Linked DNA regions of Homo sapiens: region 2 is linked to region 1. A link means that fine-mapping ties the variant in region 1 to the expression of a gene that starts in the linked region. Tissue or cell type: testis. Region 1 holds a variant in brackets; the other region holds the start of a gene. All regions are shown on one strand. Distances are between the middles of the regions.

The links. PIP is the estimated chance that this variant, and not a neighbour inherited with it, causes the effect.
Region 2: SYNJ2 starts here. The variant in region 1 is fine-mapped to the expression of SYNJ2 in testis (GTEx, PIP above 0.99).

Annotation. Positions count from the first base shown.
Region 1 is chr6:158,056,536-158,064,638 of GRCh38, forward strand. SYNJ2 (synaptojanin 2) reads left to right here. Exons shown (of 27, transcript NM_003898.4): 7 at 2,722-2,818; 8 at 5,457-5,629; 9 at 7,256-7,337; 10 at 8,066-8,103. Among named protein-coding and RNA genes, the nearest start is that of SYNJ2-IT1, 59 kb to the left of the region's middle. The variant C/T (reference allele first, on the strand shown) is at 5,043.
Region 2 is chr6:157,977,432-157,985,534 of GRCh38, forward strand. It overlaps SYNJ2 (synaptojanin 2), which reads left to right and starts at 4,432. Exons shown (of 27, transcript NM_003898.4): 1 at 4,432-4,657. The coding sequence starts at 4,531. RefSeq lists enhancers at 3,668-3,717, 3,682-4,197, 3,738-3,927, 3,948-3,997, 4,198-4,713 and a silencer at 4,118-4,697.

The sequences.
Region 1 (8,103 bases):
TTGCTGACTATGTTCCCCTCATTCGAGATAACGTTTGGAAATAAGGTGACATGTCTGCCTAGTGGCCGCAGTGGGGCACCATGAGGGTCCCCCTGAAAGCAGGCTGCCCAGGTCCTCGATGGTGTCCCTGGACTGGCATGTGCATTGTCCTGGGTGCTTCCCAATTCTCTTCTCTGGGACATCACTGCGCTCTCAAGAGTCGTGCGGTTCTCTGATGGATTTGGTTGAGAGTAAATCCTTTCTTTCCCCCGCAAAACCTTCACACAGATAGTTTTTCTTCCCAGAGGATGCTTGTTTTCCTTTGCCTGAGCTGCATGGGTGCCCCTGTTAGCCGAGGCGGTCTCTTGTCACTTTGCTGTATGTGCTCCATATCTGAGGAGGGCTGTTTGCAGCAGGACTTTGGCTGCAGCTGCTTGAGTGGGGTCTTGTCATCTCTGTGTGGTGATGAGTCTCGGTGGAAGGGCTAACCTTTCACAGGGCGGTGCCTCAGTCTCTCCTCACAGGACAGTGAACCCCTTCTCCTTCCCCGCCCCGCTCTGCGGGCGGCTGCTGTGCACATCAGGGTGTGCTGAACTCTTGGTCCCTCCCTGAAGATGAGAAGGATGCTTCCAAATAGAAATCTGATTCCTCAGTATCCCGAAAAACTCCTGTTTTCCAAGTAGCTTCCTATGACAGTAACCCGTAGGCAGGGGAAGTGAAAAAAAGGCCTCAATGCTCAGGGTGACCCAGGAAGAAGCCCGTATGATGCCGACCTTGCTGCTGGTGCCAGCGTCCCCTTACACCCTGGGTGCCAGCGCTCCCTTACGCCCTGGGTGCCAGCGTCCCCTTACCTGGGTCGGCAGGGCCTCTCAGCTCACCAATAACGAGCATTTTACAATAAAGGGAAAGAAAGAGGAACCACGTCCCACACACCAAGCACTGTCCTTGTCACTTTCACTCGTCTTTTTAGTCCTCCTCGCCATTCTCCGCAGGAGGGGAAGTAGCCCTGCTTTATAGATGAAGGAGCCAGCTCAGAAGGGATGAATCATTTGATCAGGGGAGTTTGGGGTTGGGACAGCATAGAGTAATGATGAGGAATAGTGAGTAATAATGAGTAATAACAGTTTCCTTCTGGCCCTGGGCTTTGGAACCAGTTGAGAAGAAGGGGCAGGAATGAGACAGGAAGAGATCAGAAATGGGCCTTGTTTCCGATGAGCCACATTGTGGGATGTGGCTTGGATGTGTGGCCACGGTGGGCTCCCTCACCAGGGGCAGAGCCTGCACGTGTCAGAGCCAGGCCTGGGATGCACCTTCTCTGGGCAGACCGACCCAAAAGAAAGCCCACAAGGGCTGAAGCCACACACAGCCCGCCCCAGGGCTGCCTGGAGCTGCACGTGGAGACGGGAGCCCGGGAGGGTGCTCACCCTTAACTTAGGCCAGGGAGTCAGCAGGCAAGCCTAACTTCAAACTACCCACTTCAAAATCCATAGTCTTTCTACTACTGTCCCTTAAAGTTAGTAAGAGAATGTTTTCTCTTACTGCATAAGAAAAAAAATGATTTTTTTCATGATCATTATTAGCTCTTTAAAAAATTCCGCTCATAAACGTGTCATTACAGAAATTTGGAAAAGAGAAAGATGTTTAAAGAAGAAAAGAACTTGAATCATATAAAATTCTACCACTTTTGACATCATGTGTTTTTTTCCAGTGTTTTTTCTATATTTAGGCATAAAGATTGCACCATTAAACGATAATTTGACATCTGCTTTTTGCATTGTATCATTTCCCTATGTTTTGTTTAAGGCACTACATTTCAACATGTTTAAATTTGAAATGTAAGGTTACTTTTAAAAAGCTGGTGATCAAGAATAAATATTGGAATCTCTCCCTAATATTTCAACATACATATTTAGAAAGTAGCTTCCAATACAAGGAATGTTTTCCAAAGCCTGCAAGTTTTGTTGTATCTCCTTGTTGTGGTTTAGCATAATGCAATATAGCACTTAGATTGAAAACAGGATGCTGAGTTGAGAGCTCTCCTGCCAGTTGTTCTAGTTTTGAGAAGGGTGGGTACCAAGCAAAATAAGAGATTCATTTCACACATGTGCACATTGCATGTGTAAGACTCTAGCCCAGGCACGGTGGCTTATGCCTGTAATCCCAACACTTTGGGACGCTGAGGTGGGAAGATTGCTTGAAGCCAGGAGTTCGAGACCAGCCTGGACAACATAGCAAGACCCTGTCTCTATGAAAAATAAATAAGTAAAAATTAGCCAGATGTGGTGGCATGTACCTGTAGTCCCTATTACTTGAGAGGCTGAGTTGGGAGGATTGCTTGAGCCCAGGAGTTTGAGGCAGCAGTGAGCTATGATCGTGCCACTGCACTCTAGCCTGGACAACAGACTGAGATCCTGTCTCAAAAACAAAATTCTCTTGATGAAAGTTCAGGTTAGGTGTTCTAGATATAATGGGAGGTGCTTTATAGAAAGTGCAGCATATCCTTTGTCTGATTCCAAACAAATGTAGAAGTCTACGCTAGCTAGTAGTAATGGCAGCTGGGAGGTGCAGGTTCTCTCCACCCAGGCTCATTTTCCACGATTTGGGTCATGGGGGACAGCTGGTCCTGGACTGTGGCACTAAGAAAGCATGACTCCTGCCCCGTCTTCCCTTGAGGGGCAGAACAGGGCAGAGTCTGCACCTGTGCCCGTGCCCAGCATCACGCCCACCCCGCTGCCTTTGCAGGCACATGGTGCTTCTGAAGGAGCAGTACGGGCAGCAGGTGGTCGTGAACCTTCTGGGAAGCAGAGGCGGAGAGGAGGTGCTCAACAGAGCCTTCAAGGTAAGGCCAGGCTGTCCTCTCCACAGCTGGGCTGGGCGGCAGGTGGCCATGGTGGAGCGTTGAGCCTGGAGGTGGCTCCTGCAGGGACTGGAGCTGACAGCCCAGCCCTCCTTCGTTTCCTGAGGCTTCCCCAGCATTCCGACCAGTGAACACGGCAGTGCTCAGTGACTCGGGCCCTGATACAGTGAGTGTAATTTCTTTTCTTTTTTTTTTTTTTTAAGACAGAGTTTGGCTCTTGTCGCTCAGGCTGGAGTGCAGTGGTGCAATCTCAGCTCACTGCAACCTCTGCCTCCCAGGTACAAGCGATTCTCCTCCCTCAGCCTCCCAAGTAGCTGGGATTACAGGCACTTGCCACCACGCCTGGCTAATTTTTGTATTTTTAGTAGAGACGGGGTTTCACCATGTTGTTCAGGTTGGTCAAGAACTCCTGACCTCAGGTGATCCACCCGCCTCGGCCTCCCAAAGTGCTGGGATTGCAGGCGTGAGCCACCGCGCCCGGCCTAGTGAGTGTAATTTCTGTGAGCTGATGGTTGGGAGAATTTGCTCAAAGTCAAAACAGAGCATCTCCTGTCCCCAGCCATGTGTCCCTTACCCTCCCTCCCCATGGGGCTTTGAGGGCTTCTGACCTCTCAAGGTACCCCTCTCAGTCCAGCCCAGGAGCAGGCAGGCCTCCCTTTCTGCCCTGGCTGGTCCTGGGTGAGTTCCCCCAGCCCCACAGGGCACCCGGCCTCAGGGCTCAGGAGCAGGAACTTCGGTGGCTTTCCCCTGCTTGCCGGCTGGCCTTCAAATTTCCCCCTCTTCCTCGGGCTTTCATGGCAGCTCCTGGACCTGCTGCTGCTGGGCTCCTGTGGGCTCCTTCAGACTTCCTTGGGGGGCTTTTCCTGGCGATCCTGGACAGATCCTGGGCAGGGTCACAGAGCCATGGGAGCAAGAGACTCCGCCCACCTGGCCAGGTTCCATCCCTGTGCATGGATCCCAGGCCTCCAGCCCCCGCCCCCTGCTCCCCAGGCGCAAGACGTTCCAGAATGAGCCAAGGGGGCTCCTGGTTCCTTTACCAGCCTCCATGTCCCCTGCCTAATAGAGAAAAACTCTCTCGTTGTTTAAAGCTCAAAGATATCCCTTACAGAGAGAGCTCGAAGTCGCCTCACTGGGGGTTAGGGCGATCTCTGAGCCTTTCCCTCTGCTTAGAAATGCCACATGCTCATGCTCAGAGCAGGCACTTCCTGGTTGCCAATTTTATTTGGCCAGACCTGCTTTTCCTGTTTGGTTTGTTGCTATTAGCAACGAGCTCCAGAAGTGTCTCCCTTCCCACCCATCTTGGCAGTGATGCTGGCTGCTAATTTGAAGGAAGAAGGGAAAAAGCTAAAAAATAAGAATAATAATAAGAACCCCAAGTCCTTTTCCCCTATGCCTTGAGTTGTGGCCCCTCCCATCAGTGGGTGAAGTGCCCGGCACTGGTGAGGGCGGGAGATGGCAGCCACCTCATGCGGAGAAGGGTGGGCTCCTGGCCAGGTAGGGAGGGGCACTCTAGCTGAAGACCTGGGTCATGGCCCTGCCTGGGGTGGCCCTCAGCCACCTCAGCTTGGCCCAGACCAAGGTTGGTGGCCCAGCAGCCTGCCCAGGGCCCAATGGCCATCAGTCCTGCTGGATGAAGCACTGGCTGTGGAATGCATGGCACTGAGCCACCAGGCACTGTTGGGCTCCTCCAGCTTCTTGCTCACAGCAAGACTTGCTTGATGATGGCAGCACTGCATTGATTTACACTCAGACCTATCACAGGCAGTCACGTTGAGTCAGATCAGATGACCCCCAAGTCCTTCTAGTCCTTCCAAGTCACTAGGACCTCTGGCTGGGCAGAGGCTGGACTGGCCTGACCTGAAGCCACAAGGGCATGAGTGCAGGGTGAGAGGCCTGGAAGCCGGGTGGCCTGGGTAGGCGGACAGTTTGTCCTTCATCACGGGGCTCTCTGGGGAGAAAGCCAGGGAGCTGCCAGGCCAGGGAAGCCTCATATGGAAGGGAGGGCTCTTAAGGGCATCCTGGTGCCATCAGCAGCCCCTTGACCTGCTTCCCATCTCTCCCCACCTTCACTCTGGCTCCCTGACCATCCTGAAGTAGCATCGGGATGTGGGACCCACCTGGGCCACTTCAGCTGGAGACTTGGTCTCTTCAGAGCATAACCACCAGAGGCTGGTGCGCGGCAGGATGGGGCCGGTTACTAGGGCAA[C/T]GGGGAGCTGGATTATGAGCTCTGCAGCCTGCCACAGCACTGCTATCTCTGAGGGCCTGGGGCACCTGGGCCACCTGAAGAACAGAGCAGTCCTTCCTCACCTGTGCCCTCCAGAGAGCCCTGCAGGAGTATGATCTCTCCAGGAAGCCACACCTGCTCTGGCTTCTTTTGCTCAAGGGGGACCTTCTGCCCTTTCGCAGGCAAGACGCTCTTTGTGGGTTTTGTCCCCCCAGGGCCTTTGTCCTGTGCTTCCCTTTTGGGGTCAACTGCCTGGTCCACTGTGAGCTTCCAGCTAAAGCACGTCCTGCGGCGAGTCACCTTGGTTAGCCGCACGGGTCAAGCTCTGCAAGGAGCTTGCCCTCCTCGTCCTCCCTTCCCTCTGCTCCCCTCACCGCCCTCCCCTCCTCTTTTCAGAAGCTGCTCTGGGCTTCTTGCCACGCGGGCGACACGCCTATGATCAATTTTGACTTCCATCAGTTTGCCAAAGGTGGGAAGCTAGAGAAATTGGAGACCCTCTTGAGGCCACAGTTAAAGCTGCACTGGGAAGACTTCGATGTGTTCACAAAGGGGGAGAACGTCAGTCCACGGTGAGGCTCGCTGCGCACTGTGCCGCGTCTTCTGCTGGGGGGAAGCGTCAGTCCACGGTGAGGCTCGCTGCGTGCTGTGCCTTCTGCTGGGTGAGGCGGCAGAGGGGCCGTGCAGTCTAGGACATGTGCCCTATGAGGGGCAGCTTCCTTCCCTCCCCACTCAGTTACCCTTGTGGTTTCCTGGGTCATAAGCTTGGCGACGCCGGGAATCTTGGGTTCCAGCTTCTCATCTCCCTTCCCACAGTAGGAGACAGGCTTTTGAATTTCTCAAGGAGATGTTGAGTCATGGTTTTCTGGCAAAAGAAATGAACTAATAAAGGGGACTGCATTAAAACATGGAGCTCCACGCTGTGACGCAGGCCTGTGAGAGTGAGGGCCACAGTCGCGGTGGGATGGCTGGCATAGACTTAGATTGCTAGAGGAGACCAGGGTATGGACTTCCCTGTTCAGAGCAGAGGAGAAAAACGAAGTCCAGTTCCCTCAGGTCACATGCAGGGGGTCCTCATTATTTGCAGATTCCATATTGGCTTATTTACCTATTCCTTAAAACTGATTTGTAACCCCAAAATCAGTATGCAAAGCATTTTTGCTGGACAGAGTATTTAAATACTCTGGCCTCGTATTTAAACAAGTTTCCTTTTTAAGATTTAGTACCATGTTTTTCACATTTGTGGGGTCTTTGTTAGGGGCCCCCCTTTGTTCGGGGATCTCATGGTTTAGAATGGCCCCAAGCAGTGTGCCGAAGAGCTGTCTAGTACTTCTGAGCACAAGAAGGTGGTGATGTGCTTTATGGAGAAAATGCACGTTAAGATAAGCTTTGTCCCTATATGAGCTACAGTGCTGTCGGCCATGGTTCAGTGTTAATTAAGCAAATATATATATTCAATAAGGTGTCTTTATATGGAAACATACATAAAACAAGGTTGTATATTGATCAGTTGATAAAAATGTGACCAGAGGTTTGCAGGAACCTAACCCTATATTTCCCCTAGGAGCGATGGTTCTGTGTTCATGTCCAATTCAGTGTTCCTACAACTTTATAGAACATAATTGCTATAAATAACAAGGACCAGCTAAACGTAAAACGACCCAGCTGTGCAGGCTACTGAGTGTGTGTCCTGGGGTCTGCCTGCCTTTCCAGAAGTGCTGGGGATCCACTGGGATGGACACTGGGGTTTCTGGGGGGCTATTGATGAGGAGGTGAGGGGTTCCCTCTTAGAACATGTTTCCTCACACCTGTAATCCCAGCACTTTGGAAGGCTGAGGTGGGCGGATCACAAGGTCAGGAGTTCGAGACTAGCCTGGCCAATGTGGTGAAACACCGTCTGTACTAAAAATACAAAAATTAGCCGGGTGTGATGGCACGCACCTGTAGTCCCAGCTACTTGGAAGGCTGAGACAGGAGAATCGCTTGAACCTGGGAGGCGGAGGTTGCAGTGAGCCGAGATCATGCCATTGCACTCCAGCTTGGGTGACAGAGGTGAGACTCTGTCTCAAAAAAAAAAAAAAAAAAAAAAAAAAAACCATGTTTCCTTGGGAGTCAAAAGTCAGACATGGGCCTCTGTGCTATGGCCACTGCTTCTTTGAAAACAACATATAACCGTTTACATTTCTTCTTGTCCTAAGTTTTCAGAAAGGCACTTTGCGGATGAACTGTCTTGACTGCCTGGACCGAACCAACACTGTGCAGAGCTTCATCGCGCTCGAGGTGCGTCCCTGCCACAGCCTTTTCGGCCATCTGTGCCAGGTCCTGTGACTTCAGCTGGACAGGCTGGGCTGAGCACCTTTAGCGGCAAGATGAGGGTGGCATCACCAAGACAACCTTCTGACTATGGGGAAGGTGGACAGGGAGACACTGGGACATCCAGAGAGGGGTTCCCCAGGAGGCTGCTTTCTCTGTCGTAGGCACACTTTCTCACACCCTCTTGTGAAATGCATCCCAGACATGGTGGCCCAAAGGCTCCTCGGGAACAGCGGTTGTGTGTAATGATTATCGTGGATGCACCATTGGCCAAAGGCAGTGTGAGGCTGGCCGGATGAGGCTGGATTTGAAGCTGGGGAGGGAGACCTCTGTCTGCATGGCCCCAGCTGCCTGGTTGACCTCTCCTGGCTGGGGGGTCGGGGGTAGGGTCAGCACCCCCTGCTGTCCACCACTGTTTGCTCTTCAGCCTCTGGCATTGGGTGGGGCGGGGCGGGGTGCAGGGGCGTTCAAGTGTCAGGGGGTGAGAGGAGGGCTTGGGTGGACCCTATAGATAAAGTTGGGGTGAGATGTGGGAAGTCACTCTCTGCTGTGGGAACTCCTCATCCTCTGGAGGGGCACAGAGTCTTCCAGGCACAGCGTAATCCACAGGCTGCCGAATAAGGAACCTCCTGGGACAGTGGCTGCAGGGCCTCTGTGGGAGAAGCCAGTGACAGCCATCCCTTATTCCTCCCCAGGTCCTGCATCTGCAGCTCAAGACCCTGGGGCTGAGTTC
Region 2 (8,103 bases), 79 kb before region 1:
CACAGCCCTGTCCCACTGCCTGCTCCCTTCTGCCTCCATACCTGTCCTCCCAACCTCCTCTCCCTCCCTCTGAAGATCCTGCCACCTCCTTTTCAGGGGACTTCCTTTCTCCCCTCTAGAGACAGGTGCCTCTCTGTGCTGGGGAGTGAGCTCTCCTGCTCTGCTCTTTGCTATTTGCCTTCCACCATGTGCAGGTCTGGCCAGTCCTCGAGGGTCTCTGCTATCCCGTCTGCCCCCCATTCTGTTCATCTTGTGTTTCTCCCAGCCTGGCTTCCAGAGCCAGCAGACTACACTCACAGCGCCATTTCTTCCTTATTTCTTTGCAAGCTGGCTTTTTTGCCCAGCCCTCTAGTGAAGCTGCCCCCTCAAAGGTCCCCGTTACCTTCTCACCAAACCAAGTTTCTTTTCTGAGTCCTGATTCTTGGATACCTTCCTGAGGTTTTTAAACCAGTCACCTCTCAGGGCTTTTGCATGTGGGAGGCTGTAGCCCCAGATGCCTGATGGCTGTTTCTCTTACCTCCTTCCGGTCTGTTAAAAAATGCCTCCTTTTCTGAGAGGGAGGAGCCCTCAGGAATGGTTTAGCGCCATCCTCTAGACGATGAGTTTTCACTCAGTTCATGTGAGATCCAGAGCTGTCCAGGTCACGCCCTTGGCCCCTCTGCTTTCTCGGGGTACTTCTTGATCGTCTTTTCCTCCTGCCCCTGCCTTCTACCCCTGTCTGTCTCCACTCCCCTTTGATCGCTGCCATACTCATTTCTGGCCCCTCATCTGTAGGCATTTCCCACTGGACGACCTGCCCACCCGGTCTCTGTCTCCAATTAAACTCGCCTCCTCCTCACTCTGGGATGGTATCGCTGCTGTCCCATTCTCAAAATGCCAGGGTCCTGTCTGACTTCCCACTTTCCTTTGTGCAGCTCATATCATACAATCAGGCACCAAATACAGATTTGTATTTCCTTTAAACCTCTCCTGTCTTACTCGGCTCGGGCTCTGATAGGGGTTAGATGTCTGTCCACTCCAAATCTCCTGTTGAAATGTAATCCCCAGTGCTGGAGGTGGGGCCTGGTGGGAGGATTGCATCATGAGGGTGGACCTCTCATGAATGGTTTAGTACCATCTTCTTGATGATAAGTGAGTTCTTGCTCAGTTAGTTCACGGGAGATCTGAGTGTTTGAAAGAGTGCGGCACCTCCCCCCAGCTCTCCTGCTCTAATCTCACCACGTGACATGCTGGTTCCTGGTTGCCTTCCACCATGACTGTAAGCCTCCTGAGGCCTCCCCAGAAGCAGACGCCAGCACCATGCTTCCTGTACAGCCTGTGGAAGCGTGAGCCAATGACATCTATTTTCTTTATAAATACCCAGTCTCAGGTATTCCTTTATAGTAACACAAATAGACTAATAATACAGGCTTCCGCAATAAAATACCACAGGCCAGTGGCTTAAACAATAGAAATTTATTTCTCAGTTCTAGAAGCTAGAAATTCTGAGATCAAGGTGCCAGCTGATGTGGCTCTTGCTGAGGGCCGTCTTCCTGGCCGGCAGATGCTCAGGCCCTTCCCTCTGTGTCTCTTCTTTTTTTTTTTTTTTGTTTTTCCTTCTTTGAGACAGAGTCGTGCTCTATTGCCCAGGCTGGAGTACAGTGGCTCCATCTCTGCTCACTGCAACCTCTGCCTCCCGGGTTCAAGTGATTCTCCTGCCTCAGTCTCCCGAGTAGCTGGGATTACAGGCACACACCACCACATCCAGTGAATTTTTTTGTATTTTTAGTAGAGATGGGGTTTTGCCATGTTGGCCAGGGTGGTCTCAAACTCCTGATCTCAAGTGATTCACCCACCTTGGCTTCCCAAAGTGCTGGGATTACAGGCATGAGCCACCGCGCCTGGCCTGTCTCTTCTTCTAAGGACACTAATCCTATCATTCTTATTGAGAGGGCCCCACTGGCATGACGTCATCTGACCCTAACGAGCTCCTAAAGGTTCCATCTCTAAAAACCATTCCACTGGGGGTCAGGGCTTCAACATATGGATTTGGTAGGGCAACAGGGGGTGGGGATAGGGTGGCTCAAACGTTCAGTGCATGTCTCCCCTACTTCCCCTCTTTGTTTCCTCTGATAACCTGTTGGGGTTCCTGACTCCCTCACCCACACCACGCTGAGCTACATTTCCTGCTGTGGCTTACTCTGGGGCTGGTGGAGTTGGCTTTTGCTTCCTTCCCCATCTCCTCCCCTTCCCAATTCCCTACCCTCCAGGCATTATACATCTCAGAGAGGGGAAGCGCCCAACTCTCCTGCCGCAGATGGGCCCACCCCTTTGCCCAAACGCCGCTGGGGGTTTAGGTGTCTGAGCCAACCTTTTCCTTGAAGGCCTCAAGGTCAGTTGCTCCATCTGCGAAAGGTGCCTGTGCCTGGGTACCCTTGGTCTATCAAGCCAGTGCGCATGTGAGGAAGCTGCTCCCTCTGCCACCCAGGTGGGCTGTCCCACCTGAAACCAGACAGCAGAGGCCCCAAAACCCAGCAGGCTCTTGGCTCACCCAGCCATTTCTCAGAGACGGAGGAACAGCCACTGTAGTTCCTTGAGTCTGAGACGTGCATTTTAACATTGTCTAAATCAGGGCAGAGATGACTATTGGTGGCATGTTCTAGTTTAATTGGAAGTTTTTTTTTTTTTCTCAGTGGTACATAAAATAGTGGTTCATTTTACAGTTGATGGTGACTTGGATTCTATAAGCTGTGAGGCTCAACTGCTGGTCCTGACTGCAGGAAAATTTCTAAAATAGGTATGGCATGCCACTGTGCAGGACTTTAGACTATATGATGCTAGTTAGGAAAGAGGAGAGAGAGATAAATGGAAGACTGGGTCCCCTCCCTAAGGCCTTACCACTCAATTTGCAAAACAGGGCTAAGAGAAAACATAAAAACACTTCTCAAGCAACATATGAGTAGGTGAGAACTGAAGTCTGTAAATCTGGGTGTTATATAAGCACTATTATCTGGGACCTCAGCATTCCAGGAAAGCTTCCTGGAAGAAGTGAGTTTCAGGTCAAAAAGTGGGCCAAAGGCTGATCTGCCTCACTGAATGGGCACACTGTTTTCATGAGGTAGTAATGTTTCCATCTACACAGAAAGAAGCTGCTCGGACAGCTGATGAGCATCATGCCTGGGATATTGAGCACATCATGCTTGACCTGGGCAGAGTTTGTGGGCAAGGAAAGGGGCTAAGGGTCAAGATAATCTCTGCTGGGGTTGTTCAAATTTATTACCCAACCATCACCTGAGAGGTTGTCCCCTGAGGATGGCTTGTCTGGTCATTACTGAATGTCTGCAGGGGCATGGCAGTGTTCTGCTTGGCTCTGGGGGCTCTGCCCTTTCTAGGACAAGTCCCAGAGACAAACAGCTTGGCCCAGTACAGCAGAATGGGGTGAGAGAGGAACTGAGTTCGTTTGCGGGCAGGATGGAAACAGCTGATGGAGGCTTCTCGGGCCATCCTCACGTACCCATCACAAGCGAAGGGAATTAAGCCGCCAAACCACCCCAAAGAGTGACTCCAACTCAGCCCTAAACACCCATACCCACCCCACCTCCCCTGCAGCTCTGACAGGCCAAGCCTGGGCGCTAGAACCCCGCGCCAGAAGGCCGGGCCACACACTCCAGCGTACACGCGCGGACACGTGCCGGTGTCCAGAGCCGGTGGGAGAGGCGCTGTCACCATCTGACAGGAGAGGAAGGTGGAGCGCAGAGAAGTCAGGGTCACGTGGTAAGTGGGGGTCGTGGTCTGGGGATCACGGCTCCAGGTCTCTTCGCGACAACGCACCGTTGACCCCCAACACCTCTCCCTGGCGGGGTCGGTGACCGCAACAGCCTCCGGGATAGAACGCTAGTGAAAGGTAACCTTTCTCCAGCCCGCTCCACGCGCTCCGCACCCGCTAAGCGCCTCCGCGAATTAACTCAGGCCTCCGCGCCGAAGTAGGCGCAGTTATGACCCCGCTTCCCCGCAGGGAGACCGAGGCACGCAGGGTCGAAAGGACTCGTCCAGGGTCGCAGGAGCCGACCACACAGGGAGGCGCAGCGCCCCCGGCGGGAACAGTCAGCGGGTCCAGCCTGGCGGACTCCCGGGCCGGGCTGCCCATATAAGGCTGCGGGCGGCCGGCATCGCAGCCAGGCTCCCGGGGTCGCCCCGCGCGGGGCATCCTCCTCCGCAGCGAGGAATGCGTGGCATCCGGGAGGCTCTTCCGCTCCACGCCCGCCTGCGGGGAGCCTCAGCCCCGGGGCGCGGCCTCGCGCAGCTGCCTGGCCGCTGGGGGGAGCGCGGGGCCGGGCGGGAGGCGGCGGCGCGCCCTCACCTGCCCCAGGCTGGGGAGGCGCGAGTGGGGAGGAGGAGGAAGGGGAGGAGGCCGGGGAGGAGCCTGGCGCGGCGGGAGCGGCGGCGCAAAGTGAAACTCTGGCAAGTTGCGGGCGCGCGGGGAGCTGTCGCGGGCAGCGCGCCCTCGGGAGGACGTGGCCCCGGCCCCCGCCCGCAGTGGGCCCGACCCTCATGGCCCTGAGCAAAGGGCTGCGGCTGCTGGGGCGCCTGGGGGCCGAGGGGGACTGTAGCGTGCTGCTGGAGGCGCGCGGCCGCGACGACTGCCTGCTGTTCGAGGCCGGCACGGTGGCCACGCTGGGTGAGTCCGGGCCGGGGGCAGCGACGCCCGGAGGAGAGGGCGCCCGCATTCGCCCAGCCTCGGGAAGACGGGTACCCCCCCTTCCCGAGGGGATCGGGCGGCGCTGGGACTGCCGGGGCGTAGGGGTCGCGCGCAGAGGGGTGGCTGTTTGAATGAAGTGGGGCTGGGGACTCGAGAGAGCACTCTGGCTGGGCCGGTGGCGCACGGAGGCCGGCCGCCCCTCCACGGGGATCTCCGGCCCGCGCCGCCAGAGGATATGGTTGCTGGATAGCCGGCTGGGGCGCTTTGCGTATTCATGAGGATCCCGGGGTGTTGACTTAGCCGGCCTGACCCTGTGCCTGGCGCCTTTTCTTTTGCACCTGTTGATGAAACCAGTGATTGCCCTTTGGTTTGTGTTGGCGGCTCCACTCCTGGAGGGGATGGGGACAAAAGCCCCAAAACATAGGCTCTGGAGAAACCGCTGATGGCAGCTTTGTCCCACGTAAATACTTGGTCGAGAAGCATCGGTGCTGCAATTTATAGAACTTGTAAACAAATATACCATGACCTTTATGCTGTCTTAGATCCTGCCAAGCCAGCGAATTTCACCTATGGACTTCAGAAGCCTTGAAACTGGCATTGTGCTATGGGCTTTAGTACGTGATCTCACTTAATTCTCACAATTCTACTAAAAAGCTATTATTATCCCCATTTTGCAGATGAGCAAACTGAGGCCTAAAGAGGCTAAGTTGCTTGCCAAGGTGACACCATCCACCTGACTTTTATGTGGCTGTTTCTGTAATGTCATTCAATGCGTGGCTTCCTGGTATCGCTAACCTGGGTCCCTTGTTTTGTGCTAACCATTATAAGGAAAACCTGGGTAGCACCAAAGCACGTGAAACCAGGTCTGATTGTTAGACTTCTAAATGTGGACACCCGAGAGTAAGCTCCCACCACTAGGCGTCCAGCTGTAACAGCTTGCCGGTATTCCTAGCTAAACAAGGTGCAGCCCGGGGTCACTCGTACTTGAGGTGGTCGGCAAATGCAGCAGGCTGCTTTGTAGATGCCTCTAGCCTTCTTTTCACATTTGTATGCATCGACTCCCGTTCGGATGTATGTCTTGGAAGGACTATCTCTCCTATTTCTGATTCCCTAATCATTTCATTAACATGCATTTATCCAGCTTGTTCTCAGTCACTTGATTACTGAAACAATGTCTCCAGTAGTCTCAGCATCAAAAGTAGGCAGTGAATTGTAGATTAAGTTATTTTCAGATTATTCTAATTTGTGCTGTCCTGAAGAGTCTAAGTTTGGTTATTTGGTGTGGCCTTGAAAGAAAACCACAGAAATTTCCATTCCATTTTAGATGTCTACTTCATACCACATTTATCGGAAGCGAAAGAGTAATTTCATGGTACAAAACTACTGTTTCATCAAATAGATTAAGATGTCCTTCAGTTGGATTACGGCAACATTAAGCCAAGTTCATACACATTCAAGAATTCTTTGAAGCAGCTTAGAAAAAAGAGATTTTATTTTTTCAAAAGTGAAGATTTAAAAATGATTAATGACAGTAATGTAGTGCATATTTTCCATTAGGAGCTGAAGTTTGGGCTGAGATTTACATCACGGTGGTGATTACAGTATACCAGATTTTAGAACAGAGAATGTAAGAAAGGAATTGGCTCGTCTTCAACTCATGTGCAGTCCACATTTGTCATTTAACCTAGCATTCATTTTTCAGTAGAAAACTTTAAAAAAAAATTTTTTTTTTTTTTGAAACAGAGGCTTCTTCTGTTGCCTAGGCTGGCATGCAGTGGCACAGTCACAGCCCACTGCAGCCTCAACTTCCCAGGCTCAAGCGATCCTCCTGCCTCAGCCTCCTGAGTAGCTGGGACTATAGGCACATGCCACCATGCCTGGCTAATTTTTTCTCTTTCTTTTCTTTTCTTTAAATGGGGTCTTACTATGTTGCCCATGCTGTTCTCGAACTCCTGGGCTCAGGTGATCTTTCCGCCTTGGTCTCCCAAAGCGTTGGGATTACAGGCATGAACTACTTACTGCGTCTGGCCTGAAAACTTAATTTTTTAAAGTCTGTTTTGTTTAAGTAAAATGAAACTATTTTTAAAAAGCAGCTGTAGCATTTGGTGGCTTTGCTGGTCCAGAGAATGTTTGTAGGAGAGAGCCTTATGTTACTAGAAAGTTGTTTAAAACTTTCAACATATCCTAAATGCATCACTATTGGATAAAATGGCTCTGAACTTGAAATTCCCATCTGTGTTCCAAAGGGCTAGCTAGCTGTTTTACTTTCCTTTCTTGGAGAAAGTGATTATTTTTTTTCTTTTTTTTGAGATGGAGCTTCACTCTTGTTGCCTGGGCTGAGTGAAGTGGTGCGATCTCGGCTGACTGCAACACCGCCACCCCCACCTGGGTTCAAGTGATTCTCCTGCCTCAGCCTCCCCAGTAGCTAGGATTACAGGCACACGCCACCATGCCTGGCTAATTTTTGTATTTTTAGTAGAGACGGGGTTGTGCCATTTTGGCCAGGCTGGTTTCTAACTCCTGACCTTAGGTGATCCACCTGCTTTGGCCTCCCAAAGTGCTAGGATTACAGGCGTGAGCCACCATGCCTGACCCGAGAAGGTGAATTTTTACAAGAAGGCTGCAATCTCTACTTTTGTATGGGACAGGACACTTGTGGCAGCTGGCGTAGCTGGTGGTCTAATCTTGACCTTTCACCCTTTCCTTGAAGTTCCGAGTCGGGGGTAGCTTCCTTTTCTCTTCAGCTGTGGTTTTCCTGTGATGGGTCCCTCCCAGTTAGTAATGAGAGGCTGAGAGACAAGTTGTGGTAACTGCTTCGTGGGTAGTGGTCTTTCCCGGCCCCTGAGTCATTCTAACTTCCATCCTGCTCCGCTGCGGATGCACATAGCTGCTTTCCTAGGGGCGAGAGGAGATGAGGGGACTGGGCCTGATGACCACAGGCGCTGCCCCTTCATAGCACATTTTATTCCTGAAGGATCCTAACTGGAAAAGTACCTCTCGCCGAAGGGGCTGGGTGGTTCCTTATCATTTTCAGGCAAGGCCTGGAGACAGGGGCTTGAACTGGGCTGTGATTTTTAGGAAAAACGGATGGTCCATGATTCGTTGATTGCTGGACTCCTTCCATCTGAACCTGTCTTCACCTGTCTTCACCTGTCCTGCTCTAAAGTGAACTCTTCACACTAGGGCCGTCTGGCCTGCTAGCAGGATTGTTGAAGGAATTATTCCAAATTCCTGCTTCTAAAAGAATTAGGTTGTGAATCTGAATCTGTCTTTTATGTAGATCAGTGGGAGCAAAAATTCCAGAGGCAGAAAAGCCAAATGTATTGGCACTGATTTAAAAGGCTTTTATGAAGTCTCGGGAACCTGACTGGAGGGTAGTTGGCCTTCTCAGCACAGGTGGGAAGCCCCGTAGCCGGTACCAGCAT